Linked DNA regions of Homo sapiens: regions 2, 3, 4, 5 and 6 are each reported to be linked to region 1. Evidence: microRNA targets listed by miRTarBase, many of them from high-throughput screens and not tested one by one. Region 1 holds a microRNA gene; each other region holds the end of a gene's coding sequence. Distances are from middle to middle.

Region 1 (3,476 bases):
CACCTCGCAGGTGGGGCCAAGGCTGCCTCTGGCTCAGACGTCAGGAGCCCAGGCGGACAGGGACTGGCCAGGGGCGCAGGCTTCTTAGAGGATGGGGCAAAAGTGAGGAAAAGATCCTCTGCAGCCTGGGCAGTGGGTGGTCCCCAGGAAACCCCCTGGGTCGTTTGTCCAGTGCACCCTCACCCCAGGAGGCTGCTGGACGTGCCGGAGGATGCCACAGCCACCGGAGCTGGTTGGGGTCCGAGAGCAGATGGGCCAGGGGCTGGGGCAGGCTTCGAGAAGAGGGTTCGGGCTTGGGGAAAGCCTTCGCAGCCATCGGCCAGCCAGGAAGGCCCCGTTGCCGGGTGCAGAGCTGAGTAGAGGGCAGGAGCGGGGAGGCCTAGGCTCTTCCCTTGCGTGTTGGGGGGCTGCGGTGCCTGGAGCTCTGCACACAGCCCTACTCCAGCACCGTGGGAGGCAATGCAGGCTGACTGTCCACGCCAAATTCCGGTACCTTAGGCATTCGAGTCTGTTGACACTGAGTGTCTAGGACGAGGCTGTAAAGGTGGATAAAGCCGGCTTTACAGTCTGCACCTCCTGTGTGAGCCGTGGAAGCTTCTGGAGGGATGGGCGTGGCGTGGCGCCATCATCTCTCTGCATTCTCCTTGGGAGGGCTCCAGAGCCACTGGTCACGGGCAGCTGCCAGGCTGGGTCTGGACAAATGAGGTCTGGGTCCATCATTGGGGATGGGGGCCACTGTCAGGATGGGAGTCTCGCCTAAAGCTTTGGGGTGAAGGTGCTGATGACCAAGAGGAAACTGCGGGGTGGGGACATGTCAGCAGGGGACGAGAATGCATGACCTAAAAGGTATCCAAAGTTAAGGCTGGTGGGGGCTTAGTGAGGAGCAGCAGAGTGGGGTGGTCCAGAACCGTCAGGATCGGGAGGGGGAAGATGGAACGAGACAGCAGCTGCCTACGAGCCAGGGAGCAAGAGCTCTGTGCTTTAACCTGAGGAGCAGGAGCCTGGGAACTGGAGACTCTGGGTTTGAGGTGGGGGATGAATCTGCCATTAAACAAATAATCCCCTTCCCCCCCAAAAAAATCCTCAGAGCACTGGGGAAGGGAAGTGTCCCAGTGACTGAGGGAGGGGAGCGCTGTGGAAGGATGGGTCGGCTACAGCAACTTCAGCCCAGGGATCAGGGAAGAGAGGGTCCAGTCCCTGGCCCAGCGGGGAGCAGGCCCGGTGACCTTGACCTGAGCAGCCCCAGGGCCAGAGGGAGGGGTGGGCCGGAAGGGCCCAGATGCCTCCCTGCACGGGGGGAAGGGGATGGGCTGCCGGGACTCACCCCCTAGGTTGGAAAATGCCTCCCTCTGGGTTGGAGGAGGAGAAAGGCCAGGAAGGAGAGGGAGAGGGACATGGGGAGGGTTCCCTCCTGGCCTGAGGCCTCTCTATCCCCAGGTGTTGAGCTGAGAGAAGTGGTGGGGAGGCCCCTGGGGGTGGGGAGGCCCCTGGGTGGGGAGATTTAAGATGACAGCTGGTCTTGGGCACATTGCTCTCCATTCAGAAAGGCCCCAGCCCCTGGCATTCTTCCAGGAGGGGGCTTGCTTTGCCGCCCTGCAGGGGGACTCTGCAGAGCCGGCCTCTGCCATCTCATGTCCAGGACCACAACCTGTGGCCCCGGCCTGCGCCGGGCCGGAGCTCCGCAGAAGGAAGCCAGCGGGAGGCCTCCTGCCTTTGACTGCCGTGCGTCCAGCCTGCAGCGGGCCTCAGGGGGCCGCCTCGATCCAGCCTGCCCGAGGCTCCCAGGCCTTCGCCCGCCTTGCGTCCAGCCTGCCGGGGGCTCCCAGGCCGGCGCCCGAGCTCTGGCTCCGTGTCTTCACTCCCGTGCTTGTCCGAGGAGGGAGGGAGGGACGGGGGCTGTGCTGGGGCAGCTGGAACAACGCAGGTCGCCGGGCCGGCTGGGCGAGTTGGCCGGGCGGGGCTGAGGGGTCGGCGGGGGAGGCTGAGGCGCGGGGGCCGGTGCGCGGCCGTGAGGGGGTGTGAGAGGTGGCTGACGGCGCCGAGGAGCCCCTCAGAACCTGCAGGTGGGGGGAGCTCCCATATCTTACGGGTGTTTCGGGCCTCACCTCTCCATGCCTCTCGTCAGCCTCTCCCGTCTGCGTGGTGGGGGCTGGGGAGTGGGTCCGCCGGGACCTCGCGAGGGAGGGGCACAGGAGGAGCCGGCGGGGGACGCCACCCACCCTCCTCCCTAGGAGTGCTTGAGCCCTAGTCCTGAGTCTTGGACCAGCTCACTCGGTTCCTGTGGCCCAGCCAGCCTGGCCTGGGTGCCCCGTCACAGCTGAGCCCATCTCAGCTGAGCCCAGGGTGTGTCACCGGGAAGCTCAGCTGGCACCTGCCACCCCCTCCCCCAGGCACGTTTCCCTCCCACTGCCCAGCCCATTACCATCATGTGTCCGGCTGACCTGTGCTCTCCTGGTCTGGGCAGCCTGGATGGGTGCACAGGGCCCCATCACAGCCCACACCCTCGGAGAGACGCCTCCTGAGTCTGCTCAGCCTGGCACAGGCCCCAGGAAAGGACCCGGAGGGGCGGTTCCTGCTCTAAATCCTGCCCCCACGGGGGTGGGACTGGGGCAGAATCCCATCAGTGAATAAAGGCTGCAGAGTGAAGGATGGTCCCTGGCGAGTGTACCTGTGTCCCAGTCTTCTTGCCTGAGGGCGCCTTCCCACCCATGTGAGGAGTGGGGAAGGAGCACCCCTTCTCTACTAGGCCCCAGGGCTCTCAGAGCCGGGCTCTGTCCTCACCCCAGCTGGCTCCCACAAGGCCCTCCTGGCCCCAGACTCTGTTGGACCCCCAACTCCCCCTCCAGCAGGCATCTGGAGGTAAGGAGGGGCGGGGGGCGCAGGTGCACTTGCCATTCCCGCTCTGTCTGCAGCATGGGCACATGTAAGTCCAGGCCCTGGGGAATCCCTGGACCTGCAGCCCCTGCGGAGGACTCCCTCCCCCTCTAGCTCAAGCCAGAGCCCCCTGCATCAGTACATTCCAGAACTCAGACAGGAAAAGAGGGCAAGGAGGGAGCGCTCCAGGATAAGAACCCCTACCTCGGCCCTCCCTCGCTCTCCCAGGCCCCTCTGACAACCTGTCTCCTTGCTGTCATGTCAGCAGGCACAGAGGCTACAGGGGCCAAGCGGCAGCCGCCCAAGCCCGGATTCGGGTTCTCTGTTCCCTTCTCTTGTCTCGGGCTCCTCCCTGAGTGTGTGTACTTAGAGGGTGCGGAAGATCAGCAAACTCAGTCTGACCCAGGCATTCAACCTCTGGGTAGTTACCTAGTCCTGGGTCCCCACCCCAGATGGCCTCTAGTGGGTAAGGGCTTCCTGGACCCCAGGCCTGAGGGGTGACTTCTCTTGCAGTAAGCGGGTAGGGCACTGCCTGCGCTGCTCCAGGCCCTGCCTGCAGTGGGGCTACAGATCCCTGCTCCCACCTCCAGGCAGGGCTGGAG
Region 2 (3,476 bases), not on the chromosome of region 1:
ACCATCCCTTACTTCCTTAATACCGTTGCTTAATGTCACCTTCTCTCTAAGGCTTTCTGTGGCCATCCTATTAATACTGCCCCTTTCCCCCATGGTTCTCAGCTTCTTATAACATCTTCCATCACTTACTTCTGCTTATTGCTCACTGTCTCAGCCCCAGTGGAGTGTCAGCCCCACAAGGGCAAGGATGTTTGTTTTGTTTGTAGCTCCATACTCGGTACCCAGGATGCTGCCTGGCATATAGTAGGGTCTTGATATTAAGTGATTTACTCCATACGGTTCCCCTAGCATGCAGGATGGTACCTGGCATTCAGTAGGAGCTCAAGAGATGTTTGTTGAATGAATTGGTGTGATAGGGGACTTGGTGAGGACCCGCCCCCACTTAGATAGCTTTAGAAGCTGTTGGATACTTCATCCCTCTGCGTGGTGCTGCAGACATGGAGATGAAGAGGTGGCCTCAGTGTGGGAGTAGAGGGGAGCATTCCCTTGACTGAGGAAGGAATGTTAGAAAAGAGAGCTGAGGCTGGGCATGGTGGCTCATGTCTGTAAACCCAGCACTTTGGGAGGCCGAGGTGGGCAGATCACGAGGTCAGGAGTTTGAGATCAGCCTGACCAACACTGTGAAACCCCGTCTCTACTAAAAATACAAAAATTAGCCGGGCATGGTGGCATGCGCCTGTAATCCCAGCTACTAAGGAGGCTGAGGCAGGAGAATCACTTGAAACTGGGAGGTGGAGGTTGCAGTGAGCCAAGATCACGCCACTGCATTCCAGCCTGGGCGACAGAGCAAGACTCCATCTCAAAAAAAAAAAAAAAAAAAAAAAAAAAAGAGCTGAGGCCAGGAGTGGTGGCTCATGCCTATAATCCCAGCACTTTGGAAGGCCAAGATGGGAAGATCACTTGAGCCCAGGAGTTCAAGACCAGCCTGAGCAATATAGTGAGACCTTGTCTCTCTTATATTTAAAATAAAAAATTATTTAAAAAAAATTTTTTAAAAGAAGAGCTGACCTGTCCATATCTGCCACTGAACACAGCCCAGACAGCAACCCACAGCACCTCAATAATTGACTCCTCTCTGAAAGGCAAAGAAACTGCTTCCTGAGTCTGCTGCTACAAATTCAAGGCTTGGCATCTGGACAATTTTTAACAGAAGCAGACCCCTGCCAGGGAAACTTCTGGGGGCTTGGCAGAAGAGGCAGATGCCTTTTAATCTACCTCTTGCTCAATCCCTGTGATGTGAAAAAAGCCAGTCTGGACAAATTGTACAGGTCACAGTCCCCAGCTTGTGAGGGGCCTGTAGAGAATTCTCGGGCTCACAGAAGCCGTTGCTGCAGTAACCACTGCCGCAAGAGCAACTTTGGCAGCAGGCAGGTGCCAGGCAGCAAGCTGAGAGAACACTGCACAGATTCAAAGTGTCTTCAGATACAAGGCTTTGTTTGTGCACAGTGAACAAAGGGCATATTGGGAAGGCCTCCTTATATTGTCCACACTTCCCTGAATGTAAGGAGCCCTGTCCTCAAAATGGGGATCAGCAGGGCTCCTTTCAAGGTAAAGCAGAAAAAGTCCCAGTGGCCTGTCAAGGGAGACCAGGCGCTTTGGCTGGAGCTAGGTGTTCTGGACAAAGGGCCATATTCAAGAACTTTGGGCCCCATTTTCAAGCGTAGGCTTAGGAGAAAGATGAATTCCAGGAAATCTGAAGCTGATGAGATATCTGCTTTAGCATTGTGGCACGGGGAGGAGATGGAGGGTGTCTGAAATGGCCAGGTTATGTTGTGTTACAGGCAGAGACAGAGCCCCAGTGCCATTCCCTGGGGAGCTTTAGCCCTTCTCAAAGGTGCTACCAAGGCTGGTTTATTATGATTGGAGAAAGGAGGAGGCCTCCTTGACAGAGTGAAGTGCATAAAGCATAGGAAATGGACTACTGGACATGAGAAGTTGGGAACATCCTCCCTACGATTAACAAAATACAAGCCAGAGACCAGGCACGGTGGCTCATTCCAGTGCCTATAATCCCAGCACTTTGGGAGGCTGAGACGGGAAGATCGCTTGAGCCCAGGAGATCAATGCTGCTGTGAGCTATGATTGCACCACTGCACTCCAGTCTGGGCAACAGAGGAAGACCCCAGGCTCAGCATATTCTCTGGGGTCCTGCTCTAAACTGAGAGTGAAAGCATACTCTGCTGCTAGTTGCTAGAGTTCTTGCTCAGAAAGTTGTTCAGAGATACAGTATTTCAGATTCCACAGCATCTAAAGATTTTTTTTTTTTTTTTTGAGACAGAGTCTAACTCTGTCCCCTGGGCTGGAGTGCAGTGGCGCAATCTGGGCTCACAGCAACCTCTGCCTCCTGGGTTCAAGCGATTCTCTTGCCTCAGCCTCCTGAGTAGCTAGGATTATAGGCGTGCACCACCATACCTCGGTAATTTTTTGTATTTTTATACTTTTAGTAGAGACAGGGTTTCACCTTGTTGGCCAGGCTGATCTTGAACTCCTGGGCTCAAGCGATCCATCCACCTCAGCCTCCTAAAGTGCTAGGATTACAGGCATGCACCACTGTGCCCAAGCTTATAGTATCTATATTCCAAGAGTGAGCTCACAATCAAATGAGTCCTTTAACTTGTCCTGTACCCTGAGCAGAAAAGCAAGGCTGAAAAGTGAAATGGTTCCCACCTCAGTCAACTCAGTTCCCACCTTAACTCGCAGCTCATCATACCACTTATGATTTCATCTTTCTATTAAGTACTTGAAATGGTTTTTATTATACCCTAAATTTTGGTAAATATTGGGTTTGTTTCTAGCTTCCCTACTGGTTCACCCATCCCTTTCCCTTGTCCTTGTCCCAGGACTGCACCAGAAGTAGAGGATGGAACAATGATCTTCCCACCTTCTGAAGGCAACTTTCTCATATGGTACAGAACTGGTACCAGCCTGGGGGATGGGAGGAGTCCCATGGGTCAGTCATCATCTGTGTCACTAGGGCCCATGTACTGGCAGATGGCATCGTAGTGAAGCTCCACCACCTGATTTTCTCTTGGCAGTTGCACCAAAGCCCGGCTCCGTGCTCTGTCCCGGCTCAGCAAATGTCCCACCTGGAACAGAGGTGAAGTGGAATCAGCAAGGCAAGCCTAGACCCTGGGACAGGCCCTGAACGACCCACAAACCTCTACTGCCAGGTCTGAGACTCACCCTTCCAGTCTGTGGGCCCAGCACCACCATCACACGGTCACCCTCTGCCTTGGGAACCAGGGTCTCCAGCATGTCTTCCCTCAGGCCTATGGATAAGGGAGAGGGGAGTGAGGCCCACAGCAAGGACCAGCCCAACCAGCGTCCTGTCAGAAGGGCCTTTCCTGGCCAGGCGTGGTGGCTCACACCTGTAGTCCCAGCACTTTGGGAGGCTAAGTTGGGAGGATCGCTTGAGCCCAGGAGTTCGAGACCAACCTGGGCAAGATGGTCAGACCTCATCTCTACAGATTTTTTTG
Region 3 (3,476 bases), not on the chromosome of region 1:
GTAAAACCTCGTCTCTACTAAAAATACAAAAAAATTAGCTGGGCATGGTGGCATGTGCCTGTAATCCCAGCTACTCGGGAGGCTGAGGCAGGAGAATGGCGTGAACCTGGGAGGCAGAGCTTGCAGTGAGCTGAGATCGTGCCACTGCACTCCAGCCTGAGTGACAGATCGAGACTCTGTCTCAAGAAAAAAAAAAAAAAGTCAAAATGTTAATTACATGACCAGAAGTGTTGGTTTTATATAGTTTTTTCAATTTTTCCATACATTTGAAATTTTTTTTTAAAGTTTCTTTTTTAAAAACCTGTAAAATAAAACTTGTGATTTCCAGCTGCCCATGAAAACTTGTAACGATCCGGCAGGCTTGGACCTGTTCCCAGTGTTCCAGCCCCTCCCCCTGGCTCTCACAGCTTGGGGGGTAACAACCTTTAAGCCTGTGAGTCTGCATCTTGGCCCGGTCCAGTGCCTGCATTTTACAGATGTGGAAACTGAGGGCCAGTGAGAATCGACTTCCCTAAGATGGTGCCTGAGCAGGGTCCACAGCCAGGCTGCCCACCTTGCATCCATGGCCTTGAGCGTGGCACTGGCCGCTCCCCACCCTTCCCCGCGGACCACCGGGGCCCTCCCTGCCTAGGGATGGCTGGATCCTGTCAGGCAGTCAAGTTGCCCCAAGTAGGATCACAGCCCCCACCAGGCTTCTCCTGACCTTTGTCCTCCTGGAACCTTCACCCACGGCACCCCAAAAAGCAGGTGCCCTGCTCTGCCCCAAGAAGCAAACAGCCATGCACATAACCAACAACATGGCAAAGTGGAAGGAAATCGTCTCAATTGTTTATTCGACTCACAGTCAGTGCACACACTCTACCATCCAAAAGTCGAAGCTGTGACAATCGACTGCTACAGGCAGTGCATGGATGTGTAAACAAACACAAATGAAAATGCAAATCAGAGTGGGCGGGGCCAAGGCCCACTGTTACATTCACAGCACAGGGTAAGTGCAAAAGAACAGGATGTCAGGATGGGGGGCGGGGAGCACAGGGTCCTTCCTGCCCTGGAGGCTGCCTCCAGGCATCAGCCTGGGAGGTGGGTTAGTGCCCATGGAACCCTCCTGCCCAGGAAGCTGCCTCCGGGCATCAGCCTGGGAGGCGGGTTAGTGCCCATGGATCCGGTGTCTGGGAAGGGGCCCACAGAAGATGGGCCACACCCAGCATCATCTCCTCTCTGTGGTGCGCCCTCCCATCCCCAGACCCCTTTCCCATTCAGGGGAGAGGGGCCCTGGTCACAGGAGCCAGTCCTCTGACCTCCTGAGTGTGGAAACCCAGGAGGGGAGTGTGTTTCTCCTGCAGGCCTCTCAACCTGGAAAGGGCAGAGCCACAGCAGAACGCGTTGGGGCCACAGACACTCGCTCAGGTGAAGACACTGAGAAGACACTGCCGGGCTGACAGGACCCCGCGGCGGGGGGACGTCGCTGCTAACAGGACTCTCTGCAGGCCCAGGGGAGGCTCTGCCCCCATGAGGCCCCAGGAGCGTTTGTGCGTTGAACTGAAGGCAAAGTGCTGGGCAGTTTCTTGTCCTAATGAAGGTGGGGAAGCTGGTCCGGCCACATACATCCTCTGACCTCCCCCAAGTGGTCCCCGGGCCCACAGGTGACAGGGGCCTGAGCGATCCCTGGTCTGAGCCCCCAGCTCAGAGCCTAGCACCACCCAGGGAGGTCTGGGCTCATGGAAGGGGGATGGGCGGGGGCAGGAGGGCCCAGCCCCACCTCCGCCCGTCTTTGGTGGTGACAGAGGTGGGAGGAGAAAAGACGATCTTTGGTAGGGCGAGGGAATGTCAAAGGACACTGTCAAGGGCCCAGTTCCTGCTCAGAAGAGAGCACAGGAGTGGGAGGCCCACCTCTGCCCCATCTCTGGATGGCCCAGGCCTGCTGCCCACTAAGGTGGCCCCACTCTCCTTCTCTGGAGTTGCAAACTCTCTGAGAAGGCGGTTGAGGTGGGGAGGGCATCAGGACAGGCCAGCTGGATGCTGAGACCATATAGCCACAGGTGGCTTCTAGCTCAGGACACTGTGACCTTCACCACAGGGCTCTAGGCCCCATCCTTCACCTCCACCCTCCCAGCACCCTTGTCAGCAGCCCTGGAGCGATGGGAGGTTTTGGGGTCCCCCACCTGGGGCATCCTGGCTCTGCCTGTCCCAATTCTCCACAACAACCCCCTCTCTCACAGCCTTTCTCTCCCACAGGCCCCACTGGTCCTGGCCTCTGCTTCCCCCAGGAACCGTTCTTCTCCATGGAAATGTCCCCTCTGGGCCTTGGGGACTCCCAGATGATGGGGGTGGGGCAAAGTCAGGGGCAACGGCCCTCAGCCACCACAGCTGTCAGATACCAACCCAGGGAAGGGAGGAGGAGCCTTCTCTCTGCCACCCCCCAGCCCGTGCCGCCTCTACTGCAGCTCCCCCAGGGGCCCATTCTCTCGGGGCAGCGCCCCATTCACGCCTGCGCTGCTGGCCGCGGGCACCCCCAGGTACCCCAGCAATATCTCGCTGCGGCGCCGGGACAGCTGCAGGATGTCGTCTGCCAGCGCGGGCAGTGACGTGTAGCGCACATTGTCCAGGTCGAACATGTCCCTCAGGTACTGCACAATCTGGTGCTGGGGGAGCAGGGCTGGTGTCAGGCCTGGCCCAGCCACTGCCCACCATGATGCCCCCCAGGTTACCTGAAGTCCCCTTGTCCACCACCAGAGCCCCAGCCGGTCCTTTCCATCCCCAGGCTCCTCCCTCCCACTGCTTCCTCTGGACCCATGTGGGTCTGGCTCTGCCCTCTCTCTGGGAGCAGGCCCAGGCCCAGGCCCTCATCCCATTCCTGGCACCTCCCAGGGCGCCTGTGCTCAGGGCAAGGGTCAGGAAAGAACGAGAACTGCTCTCTGTTTACCTTGAAGAAAGCACAGACTTCAGCAAGCTGAGGCTTGGGTCCAAGGAAGCCGAAGGCTAGGACAGGGCTCACATGCTCCGATACGGAGTAGAAATGGGAGATGAAGCCATCAGGCACCTGCGGTGGGCACAAGGCTGAGGGGCCAGGCGGGGCCCAGGTAGGATGAGGGCACCAGGCCCAGGTGTCGCATAAAGGGCTGGGCTTTAGAGGTCGCCCCAGCTCATGTACTTTCCTGCTAGATGACCCTGGGCAGTGACTCAAGCTTTCGAAGCCCATTTTAACTTCTGCAGACAGGGTAACCATGGGCCGCTGTGAGTACTGCAAGAGGTGGGGCCATAGTGGCTCCGCGGGAAGTGCCTGGAGCACGTGGCCACGGCAGCTGGTATCAGCTAGGCAACAGAGCCTGGCCCGCAGAGGGGAACGACAAACCACAGGCCAGATAGCACAGCCAGTCGCTGCCTGGGAGCGGAGATTACAGGGGCCTGACTGGGGCGGGGAAAGGGCAGGAGGGACAGGGCTCTGCTTGCTCCTGGGTATCCTGCCCCCACCGAGA
Region 4 (3,476 bases), 150 Mb from region 1:
TAACCGCTTTAAGGTTATGTTCAGTATTTGCTAAGTAAACAAAGATTCCCCAACCTTGAGGGAGCTTGTGGACCAAGGGGATAGTGTTGTCCTGCCCAGCCTAGGGGAAAAGTATCCTGAAGGTTAATAAGGTGGTGGAGGAACATTAGGCCACAGGGAGCAGAGGGAAAGCATAACAGCAGGGGATGATAAGGGTGATTATAGTTTAGAAAGCATGAAAGTATGACTTAAGGAAATGTCTTTAGGTTGAACATTCTGTATATAACCTGCCTTTCTAAAGTTTCAAAGGGGATGGATACCCATCAGGGGCAAAGATCCAAATCCTGAGGGTAGAATGAGGAGGATGTATACTAAAGTCTTTTGGCTAAAAGGACATTGATAGCCCATTTTTAGAATGGCTACAGTTGCAACCCAACTCTACCCCACTGAACAGCTTTTATTACCAGTATTTACATGACCACTTTTTCTTTACACCTCACCCTACCCCAATATCTTCCTTGGGAAAATTGGTCAGAGAGGTGGTATACTAACAGTTTGGGGAAGGGCAGCATCCTTGCCCATATTTAGAAAAATACTTTTTCAAGTGTCTTCTCCCAAGTAACTCTTGGGACTTTTGTTACCAGTCAAGTAGGTACAGTGAGTTTGGCAAACAACATAGTGGCAAAGTATCTTCTATTGTGTTACTATGAGAGAAGATCTGCAAAAGGATTGAAAATCAGCATCCCTCCCACCCATTCTTACAAAGTAATCAGGGGACCCTGTGCCACAGCCATTGCTTGCCCATATAATACCTTGAATGAATTAGAGATTTTCCACCAAACTCCATTTGGCCTCCTCAGTGGTGGGGGAGGGTGGCAATCTGCTTGACAACTAACATGTCGGCCCTGTCCTGGTCTATCCCTAACTAGATGCTAATACAAAGGTTGAAAATACAGATATAGGTAGTAATGAAAACAGATTTGGCTGGGCACGGTGGCTCACACCTGTAATCCCAGCCCTTTGGGAGGCCAAGGCAGGTGGATACTTAAGGTCATGAGTTTGAGACCAGCCTGGCCAATGTGGGAAACCATGTCTCTACTAAAAATACAAAAATTAGTTGGGCGTGGTGGTGGGCACCTGTAGTCCCAGCTACATGGGAGGCTGAAGTGGAAGAATCGTTTAAACCCAGGAGGTGGTGGCTGCAGTAAGCCAAGATTGTGCCACTGAACTCCAGCCTGGGTGATAGAGTGAAACCCTGTCTTTAAAAAAAAATAGATTCAAGAGGTATCCAGGAGGTAAAATTGATGGGACTTGGCAATTTTAAGAAATGCAAGGAAAAAGGAAGAGTCAAGGCTGATGACCTAGAGATAACAGCTTGGCTAAGGTACAGAGCTGCCATTCAATAATAAAGAATAAGGAAGTCTGAGTTGGGGATGAATGTAAGTTCTGTTTAGGATGAACTGAGCTTGATAGCCCTGTGGGATATCCAGGTGGAACTTAGACCTATACGTCTAGGGCACAGGAAAGAAACCTAGCATCGTTGGAAATCCTGGAGTAGACACAATCATCTGAAGTATGTATACTGAAAAAGCAGTTGCTTAGGAAAGAACCCCCGGAACACTGTCCAAGGAGGAGTGGGGGAGAGTATGGGAAGAGAAGCCTGCAAAGAGATGCAATCATTTACAGAAGTTACTGAGACTGCCAATTTACTACCGGTCTCTGCTACAAGTCCATGAGCTCCCAAAGCAGGGATCCTTTTTCATAACCCTGCATTCTCGCTTCCTAGCTCAGTGCCAACCCTTTGAATTTTCACTGAACTGAGGAGCTTCCTGAGTTACCCTTGTATACCCCAACCTACAAAATGTCTAAGCATTCCCTAATCCCTTACTAAATTTAGTTAATTCTTACTTTACCTCCCCTTCTGCTCACCAAAGGCTAGAATAATACCAAATACTAAGCTTATTTTTAGAGAAAATCTAGCAATCATCTAGATTTCCTTATTTAACTTTGATGCTGCTATTCTGACTGCTCTCATAACTGCTAGTGAAACACTGGGTGTATATAGATAATAGGAACAAAGAAGGAACCAAAATTGCAATGAAGATAAATTACTTTGTGTGCATTTACAACCTGACCACCATCCAATTATACTTTTAATTAAGAAAACATGTTTTAAGCTGCATTATTTCAGATTATCAGTGATTCTGAAAATTACAAGTGGCAGGGTGCAGGACCTTAAGTCAAATAGACGTTAAGTTCAAACCATCAGTCCATTCGTCACTAGCTGTATGTCTTCGGGCAAATTATTTTACCTCTCAGCCTAATGTAATAATGCAGGTAACACTGCTCACGCGGTGTGTTGCACATAGCAAACACTTGGGAACAGTTAGCTATTCATCGTGGTACATTAAATTGCTTTTCCCCAAGAGCCACTTTATTTATTTATTTTGAGACGAAGTCTTGCTCTGTTGCCCAGGAGTGCAGTGGCTCGATCTCGGCTCACTGCAACCTCCACCTCCTGGGCCCAAGCGATTCTCATGCCTCAGCCTCCTGGGTAGTTGGATTACAGGCACCCACCACCACGTCTGGCTAATTTTTGTATTTTTAGTAGAGAAGGGGTTTTGCCATGTTGGCCAGGCTGGTCTCGAACTCCTGGCCTCAAGTGATCTGCCCACCTCAGCCTCCCAAAATGCTGGGATTACAGGCGTGAGCCACGGCACCCAGCCCCCAAAAAGCCACTTTAAACCTTATCCTAGGAGGACAGTTTCACATTGCGTCTAACCTCTTCCTGGCCTCTTAATCTTGGGTTGTTAAATCTTATTTGCTTTATTTCCTTGGTTCCTCTAAGTTGTAATCTCGGAGTTAAAAACAGCTTTAGAACCCCGCCCCCCCAAAAAAAAAAAAAAAACTTTTGAGAATTTTTTTCAAATAAATGTCCATTGCATAGAATGGGTCTGTGACTGGCTGCTTCTACATCTGCACCCAACATCTGGCCCCCTTCAGAACTCTGAGTGGACAGGATCAGGATTTGACTCAGGAGGATTAGAATGTGAAGAATCCGTGTTTGAGGGATTCAGTTCTCCAACTGCCTCAAAGGGTCTCAAGTTTGCATAAGTCACCTCCTGGGCCAGCTGCTCCAGGGAAGGACGGCCTAATATCAGATTTCGAAGTGAGATACAAGTCATCAGGAAGCTGAAAAACAGGAAAAAGCCGACCAAGTTCAAACTCCTGTTTCACCAGAAGAATTTCAGCTAAAGCCCTTAGAAGGCACCTGGTCCTCACTCCTCCCACACAGGCATATATGGGAATCTCCCCCCAAGTGACCCTCCATCTCCCAGCTGGAAGGGTACACCACTCTTTATACAGTCTGGTAGAGGATTCCAGGATAGGGTAGGAACAGCCCACAGAGAGGCTGGAGATAAGCTGAGGCAGAACAAGAAAGCAGGCCATCAGATATAGGCCACTTATTCTTCCAGTAAATCAAGAAGAATGGCAGG
Region 5 (3,476 bases), not on the chromosome of region 1:
CTGGGCCTGTCCAGTGAATGACTCTATGGGTCACATAGAAGCCAATACACACGGGCACTTGGAATCACATGGTTGCTTGGTGTCCTATGCTCAAGCATTCTATCTTATCAGGGCCAGTAACATGCTAAAAGTTGCTTCTAACATGGAGCATGTTTCTCTGCTGTGGACTCCATGGCCTTACTCCTGATCCCAGGCCCTGCATTCTGACTTTCCCACTGATGCTTGGTTCAGCTCCATCCTGCTTCTTTCCCCAGACCGCCACCTCCAGCACCAGGGGTCTGAGGGATGGTGACTGACTGCACCACAGCCTGGGTCTGCTGCAGTGTCCTTTCCAGTCCAGGCCCCACTCAAAGCTGGCCTCCTCCTATATCACCCAGAGTGTCAGCCAAAGCAATAAACTTAGATGTGGAATGTGGTGTTGCTAGAACCCAGAGAGGCTCACAAGGTAGTGTGCATCCTTCCTTCTGGTGAGGATGCAAGATGCAAGTGTGTCTTTTACTTTGTGTGTGTGTGTGGCGGCGGGGAGCTCTGCATGCCCCTAACCACTGGACCCATAACACTTCACTGCAGTGGCCACTCTTGAAGCTCTGTAAGTTTTATCTTCACCTTCTGTAGTGCACATGTTTTGCCAGGGAATTCAGCGTACTTTCCTGCTGTTGTTCATCCTTCCCAATTTATGTGATATTGCCAATGAAATGAAGAGATTTAGTATTCTGTGGGATGTCTGATTCGTCCAGGTCTCTTAAGGTGATATTTATAGAAGGTTGAGGAGTTAAGGTAGCCCTGATGCAAGCTATCAATAAATGTATTATAAATCCCATGTGAATGTGAATCATTCCATATCCATCTTCTAAATGAAATGGGAGGGAATGCACTCACCAAATCCACAGCTGCTTGCCATGTGCCTGAGGCCTTATTAATCTCCCCAGGCAGTGATATCCAGCCAGCATGGCAGCTGCAATCAGGACTCCTACTTGGTCAAGTCTGGAGTAATTCCATTCATTCTTTAGCCATATCAGGCTTCTGCAGGTACAGATTGCTGAGTTATATGGAGATAACAGGCAATCCCAACACCACCCCACATCGTTCAGGTCTGTAATGGCAGTGCCACCCCTATAATACCTGCAGTACCCTCCACAAGACCCACCCTGAGGCACAATATTGCTTCTGGTTTGGCTTGGATGAGGGATGTTTCCCTTTGGGCTTCAGCACAGTGAGATCCCTTACTCTCCAGACTAGGGACACAGTGTGGGGTGACTCCAGTTGCCAGTGCATCAAGGCCAATTATGCACTCAGAGAATGGGGAGATAACCAGGACAGGATTTATGGAACTGGTGATTCCACCATGGGGCATAATGTATCTAGGTTTATTCCCTGGCCTCTGTAAGCCCCAGTGTGATGGGGGACATAATGGTGCTGTAGGAATCTGGGCAGCAATGTCAGCTCACACCCAATGTTAATACTTATCCCATCTCCTGATTAAATGGCTATAGGCTCCTTTGCAGAAGGGCTGATGGAATTGTCCCAGCATATAACCATCATCGTGTCCCAAGGTTCTTTCTCTTAGGGATATAGATATGTCCTTAGTCACTGGATTCTGAATCTGAAGCTTGCTCCTCAATTCCACATGCTTATCATAGATATCAAGCAGTGCCCTTGCTGTCTGCCCATCTTTTCTGACCCTGGGACACCACCCTTTATTAACCTTCCCCACAACTCCTTGAAGGTCAAGCCCCCTTGGCTGATACTCTGGGTTATCACAGTAAATGTGCCCTCTATCTTTTGCAGGTCACTGAAAAGGAGGGTTCCTAAAGCATTCACTCCTGACCCTGAGGGAGGTGGGTGCACTCACTCCAGGACTCAGGTTCACCACAGATAAGCAAAAAAGTCCTCACATTCAAAATTGTCCTGGGCCACATGCAGCCCACGAGCCGCGGGTTGGACAAGCCTGCATCTAGAACGTATGCACCATAACCCCAGACATTTTTCTGTTTTTACTTTAAGGATGCTTTCTAAATGCAAAAGCAGTCATATCCCTAGCAGACAACAAATGTCAGTTGAATGAATGATCACTGTAGAGCACCTCCCTATTCTAAAGCCCATATCTTTATTAATGTAGCCACAGGGCAAATGCTGTTTTGTGGCAGCTAAAGAACATAAGTTCACGTGGACATCCATGCCGCCAGTGCTTTTCTCACCAGGGCTGCTTGTATGTCCTCCCTCCTCCCACACCAACCCTCCTGCACACTTCAGCACAAAACCATATATTTCTCTTCAGGAACAATAACCCTAGCCTTATGGGTACAATTTTCCAACCACATATGAATCTAAATTAGACTCTGCTTTATAAATCTATGAGTTTGGATTGGAGCCAGCACTAGGATTACTACAACTCAGAGCAGGAAGAAGAGTAGGAGGGCAGAAGAGGAGTTCCAACAGAAAGTTAACCATGATGAGAAACTATGGGACCCCTCCTCTCTGCAAATGTCACAATCTGGTTCCTTTAAAAAGATTGGAGAAAAATCGAAAATACCATTAAGGAAAAAGCCCTGGGAGGAAGGCAAGACCTGGACAGGTCTGAAAATTTGTCTCTTGATACCACAAGGAGATTTGTATGCAGGGACCACCCTAGGTGACATCCAACTCCCTGTGATCACAGGTCTTGGTGGGACAAGGTTCTACTGAAGGGCCAAGGACAATGGAGCAGCAAAGATGACCCAGGTGAGCTGTGACCACATAAAGCCCATGGTGGCCAGAACAGAAACTGGGCACAGCCCCATCTACTCTCCTCCCCTGCAACAAATCAGCACAAGAAACACGTGGACTCTGGAAGGTTCTCATGTCTTCCATTTATTTTGTCTCTCAAATTTTAGGAATCTTCTCCTTTAATTAACTCATCAACCTCTCATGGCAAGAATTTGAGAAAGTAAATTTATACTAAGGTTCTAATTTTAATAGGGAAGGAAGAAGTTACAGCTCAGTGCACCATGAAGTTGAGACAGAGATGGAGACACCTCAGCCCCACCTCTCTGGAACAGGAAAGATGATTGGGGAGGGAGCACAGGTCAGCGTGGGAAGAGGGTCATGGTGGACATGGGGGTGGGGTGGTCTCCCCACCTCCTCACATTATGCCTACACGAACACAGACACATGCAGGTGCCTTTGCAGAAACAAAGTCAGGGTTCTTCAAGTCACAAAGGGAAGGGCAGGAACAACTCTTGCCTCTCAGTCCCACACAAGGCAGCTGTCTCACACTATAGAAAAAAATATTCATGAACAAATTCATATCCATCACAGTGAGGGGTCACACCTTAAACAGCCCATCGCATGCTCAATACATCCAATGCAAAGAAACCCCATAGCACAGCTGTGTCCACTGTTCCGCCCAACACCCAACACACATTAGGTCCTCCAAGCTCTCACCTTTACAAGCTGTGAGGGACACATCAGAGCCCTGGGCACTGTCACTGCCTGGG
Region 6 (3,476 bases), not on the chromosome of region 1:
CAGGGCTGGCCTCAGCGTGAAAGGAGGGAACACACACAGCGCCTGGAACAGCGCCGGGAACAGCATGGGCGCTGCAGAAGTGTGGCCTATCACATGTCACTAGTGGCGTGGAATTCCCTCAGGGTTGGCTTCCCCTGGGGACCCCAGCAGCCCCTCATCCCTCAGCCCTGCCCCCTGTTGCTCCCATGGGAGTAAGAACAAAATCTGAAGTTTGTTATTAAATCGGTTCCATTTTTATTGGATTTGAACCAAATACAGCAGGATGAGGGGTGGGGGTGCTGAGGGGTCTTAGTTCATGTTGGGATGGGGTGGGGGGCTCAGGGGGCTGGGAAATCCTAATATACGGATGCTCTGTGAACCCTAACCTGGCCGAGAATGCACCCCCTCCTGTCTTTGATAGGCTAAAGGCACTTGGATATCAATTCTGGGGGGCCCTTGGGGTTGTCATGGTAAGCAGAGTCAGACAGGTGCTAAGAAAAAAATTGGTTCTGCCCAATTCAGGGGTGGCGGTTGGGGTTGCACGAACTTCAGCCCTCACTCATGTCGAGCCCCCTGGGCCATCTGTACATCGTGGTGCTGGCCTGGGCCCTCCCGGCCACAGCTCAGGGAGAACGGGCTGTTGTCTCCTTCCAGCTCCTTCTGAAACTTTTGCTCAAAGCCTTCAGGGCTGAGCCAGCTTTCTCTCTGTTTCTCTCTGGCTGATCGATCTCAGAGCAGTCTTCAGGGATCCAGGATCCAAGTCAAGCCATCAAGCTCATCTGCAGGCCTGGCCTCTGAATACAGGGTAATAGGTTTGACCCTCAGACCCATTTTACAGATGAGGACACTGATGGTCTAGGTGGTCTTCAGTCACCAGCTGAGATCACATAGCCGGGCAGGAGCAGAGCTGCTTTTGAGCCCTTCCCGCAAAGTCCTGGAGGGTCTGTCCTAACCTCTTGGTTGGCAGCCAAGCCCCTTTCTGGCTGAGGTTTTGGCCCAACAGTGGTTCCTGTCCCTGCCCCCAGCAATGTCCTAACTGTCCTCTGGAGGATGTGGAGGGGAGGGGCAAGAACTGGCTGTGAGGAGGCCAGGTCACAGATGGTCCCTGTGGTCCCGGTCTGGTGCCTGAATCCTTCTGCAAAACCTCAGCTCCTGCTTGTTTGCCCCCCGTGACAGGATGCCCACCATCTGCAGAGCAACCGGGCGGTGACCTCAGGGAAGCTCTTCCTTGACCAGAGCTGCAGTCGGCCTGTGACCCCAGCTTTGGTCCTGGATCTGCCCCACCTCTGCAGGTGCAGAGACCCAGCTTCCTCCATCACCTTCTCCCGAGGACCCGGGTCCAGGCCTCCCTGCAGGGTGAAGCCCTTGTTCCGGCCTTGTTCTTGTCACTACACTGCACCGCACGTAGCCGGGATCCCCGGGAACCCCCTGTGCTCTTTGGTCTCGTTCCCCACCTGAGCCACGGGTCAGCAGGGCCGGCCATGATGGGGCCACGCTCAGGGCTTGTCTGAGGCCGGCTCAGAGGTCATGTGTACCTAGGGGCAAAAGTCCCTCCAGTAGACCCATTTGGAAGGACACTCAGCACCCCAGAAGCCATGGTTCTGGGCCGGGGCAGGGTGGCCACCTCTCCCTTGTGGGGTGGCCCTCTCTTGCCTGCTGTTCTGGGAAGCACGTGGCAGCGGAGGGAGGCGGAGGGCTGGGGTGATGGCTCCTTCTTGTGGACAGCCCTGCTGGGCTGTGGGGAGGACGGAGGACAGGGCGTGTGGACCCCTGACTGTGACCACCGTGTGTGCTGGGTCCTCAGCAAGACCTGAGCCCAGGCCCCGAGGTCGGCTGGGAGATGCTCAGCTGAGCAGGCGCTGGGGTGGGCTCTGTGTCCCAGGTGTGAGCTGTGTCTCAGTTATGCGTTGTGCCTGTCCCAGGTGTGAACTGAGCATGTCCCTGGTGTGAGCTGTGCTCTCACGAGAGCCCTGCCTGCCTCTGTGGTCAGCTCTGGTGCCCAGGGCTTGGTTTTAGTGTCAGCTGGGTGTGAGGGTGTGTGTCTCGGGTGTGAGCTGTGTGTGTCCCAGATGTGAGTTCTGTGTTCTGGGTGTGAGCTGTGTGTTCCAGTGTGAGCTGAGTGTGTCCTGGGTGTGAGCTGTATCCCGGGTGTGAGCTGTGTGTTCCACTGTGAGCTGTCCTTGTATCAGGTGTGAGCTGAGTGTGTCCTGCGTATGAGCTGTGTGTCCCGGGTGTGAGCTCTGTGTTCCGGGTGTGAGCTGTGTGTCCCGGGTGTGAGCTGTGTTTCCCGGGTGTAAGCTGTGTGTCCCGGGTGTGAGCTGTGTGTTCTGGGTGTGAGCTGTGTGTGTCCTGGGTGTGAGCTGTGTGTCCCGGGTGTGAGTTGCGCCTGTCCCGGGTGTGAGCTTTGCTCTCACGAGAGCCCTGCCTGCCCCCTGCGGTCAGCTCTGGTGCCCCGGGTCTGGTTTTAGTGTCGGCTGGGTGTGAGGTGTGTTGCACCTGTGTGATTGGGTTCCAGGTGTGAGTGTGTCTCTGGGTGTGAGGTGTAGGACGGCCAGGTGTGAGCAATGCAGACTTTCTGCGCACCCTCCCCTTGGGGCTGTGGGGCCCTTTGTGGGACCCGGGTGTCCACCGTCTCCCCGATGCGATCTGTGTACAAAGGGCTGGGGGAGCGGAAGCCCAGGGCTTGGGGGCAGCAGTCTTGTGCCTCCTGGGTGTGAATTGCGGGCCCTGAGGATCCTGGGGTCTCTGAGCGCCCCCAGCCACCCCGGGTTGGTAGACGGGAGCCCATCCCCCCATCCTTGCAGCCCGCACCCCCACCCCCCAGCTCAGCCACCATAGCAGGGACAGGAAGACGGGTTGAAATCTTTAGAAAACGCTTGAGAAACTGCAAAAAAGACGCATGCTGATGAAAAACAGTCCTGCGGTTGGGCGTCTACAAAAAAAGGGGAAGTTCTGCCTGGGGAGCGCCGTGCAGCCGTCCCCTTCCCCTCCGGGAAATGCATAGGTGGACACGCGAGCGGCCGGCCCGCGGGGGAGGGGAGGGGAGGGTCCGCCCTGGGGACCCCTCAGATCATCTTCATGTTGAACTTGCGCGCGCCTCCCTGGCCCGCCGCGGCGGCCGGCCCATCCACCTTGCGGAAGGAGTACTCCACCGAGAAGTTGTTTTTGTGCTGCCCGCGGCCGCGGCTCCACACGAACAGCAGCACGAAGCAGAAGAGGACCACGCCCAGGAAGGTGATGCAGCCCATGGCGGTGGACACCAGGATGGTGGTGAGGTCGAGCGGCGCGCGCAGGGCCGCCAGCGTCTCGTTGTGGGCCTCGCCCGGGGTCCGGTTGGCGGCCGGCTCGGGGCGCACGGTCAGCGTGGCGAAGTAGGTGTCGTTGCCGCCCGCGTTGCTGGCCACGCACGTGTAGGTGCCGCTGTCCTGCGGCCGCGCGTCCTGGATCTCCAGCGTCCCCCCGGGGAGCACGCGCGCCCGGCCCGCGCTGGTGGCCGT

Evidence for each region. Region 1 holds the annotated microRNA hsa-miR-149-3p (AGGGAGGGACGGGGGCUGUGC, at 1,882-1,902, shown strand). A microRNA usually pairs through its seed, bases 2 to 8, with sites in the 3' UTR of a target mRNA and lowers its output. Matches are read on the target gene's strand: a 7mer-m8 pairs with bases 2 to 8, a 7mer-A1 pairs with bases 2 to 7 and ends in A, and an 8mer does both.
Region 2: the mRNA of GPKOW is a reported target of hsa-miR-149-3p. Seed matches in the 3' UTR shown: 7mer-A1 at 2,934-2,940.
Region 3: the mRNA of MIGA2 is a reported target of hsa-miR-149-3p. Seed matches in the 3' UTR shown: 7mer-A1 at 2,140-2,146, 7mer-m8 at 1,990-1,996, 7mer-A1 at 1,879-1,885, 7mer-A1 at 1,788-1,794, 7mer-A1 at 1,137-1,143 and 7mer-A1 at 1,075-1,081.
Region 4: the mRNA of GGCX is a reported target of hsa-miR-149-3p. Seed matches in the 3' UTR shown: 7mer-A1 at 1,134-1,140, 7mer-A1 at 1,001-1,007 and 7mer-m8 at 846-852.
Region 5: miRTarBase lists HLA-A as a target of hsa-miR-149-3p. Seed matches in the 3' UTR shown: 7mer-m8 at 3,051-3,057.
Region 6: the mRNA of LINGO3 is a reported target of hsa-miR-149-3p. Seed matches in the 3' UTR shown: 7mer-m8 at 3,021-3,027, 7mer-m8 at 3,016-3,022, 7mer-m8 at 3,011-3,017 and 7mer-m8 at 1,038-1,044.

What each region holds. Positions count from the first base shown.
Region 1 is chr2:240,454,175-240,457,650 of GRCh38, forward strand. MIR149 (microRNA 149) reads left to right here and starts at 1,827; the gene lies at 1,827-1,915. The region is part of intron 1 of GPC1 (glypican 1); the gene reads left to right. GPC1-AS1 (GPC1 antisense RNA 1) reads right to left here and starts at 2,526. Exons shown (of 3, transcript NR_161169.1): 1 at 2,423-2,526. RefSeq lists an enhancer at 1,127-1,777.
Region 2 is chrX:49,110,670-49,114,145 of GRCh38, forward strand. It overlaps GPKOW (G-patch domain and KOW motifs), which reads right to left. Exons shown (of 11, transcript NM_015698.6): 10 at 3,184-3,269; 11 at 2,738-3,086. The coding sequence ends at 2,952. Among named protein-coding and RNA genes, the nearest start is that of GPKOW, 11 kb to the right of the region's middle.
Region 3 is chr9:129,069,413-129,072,888 of GRCh38, reverse strand. MIGA2 (mitoguardin 2) reads right to left here. Exons shown (of 16, transcript NM_001329990.2): 15 at 2,924-3,040; 16 at 807-2,642. The coding sequence ends at 2,436. Among named protein-coding and RNA genes, the nearest start is that of DOLPP1, 10 kb to the left of the region's middle. RefSeq lists enhancers at 146-1,095, 1,096-2,045, 2,993-3,132.
Region 4 is chr2:85,546,956-85,550,431 of GRCh38, forward strand. It overlaps GGCX (gamma-glutamyl carboxylase), which reads right to left. Exons shown (of 15, transcript NM_000821.7): 15 at 1-3,171. The coding sequence ends at 2,979. Among named protein-coding and RNA genes, the nearest start is that of MAT2A, 9.5 kb to the left of the region's middle.
Region 5 is chr6:29,945,229-29,948,704 of GRCh38, reverse strand. HLA-A (major histocompatibility complex, class I, A) reads right to left here. Exons shown (of 8, transcript NM_002116.8): 7 at 3,424-3,471; 8 at 2,835-3,254. The coding sequence ends at 3,250. LOC124901298 (a long non-coding RNA gene) reads left to right here and starts at 3,112. Exons shown (of 3, transcript XR_007059541.1): 1 at 3,112-3,476.
Region 6 is chr19:2,286,954-2,290,429 of GRCh38, forward strand. It overlaps LINGO3 (leucine rich repeat and Ig domain containing 3), which reads right to left. Exons shown (of 2, transcript NM_001101391.3): 2 at 211-3,476. The coding sequence ends at 3,045. Among named protein-coding and RNA genes, the nearest start is that of PEAK3, 6.5 kb to the left of the region's middle. RefSeq lists a silencer at 2,973-3,082.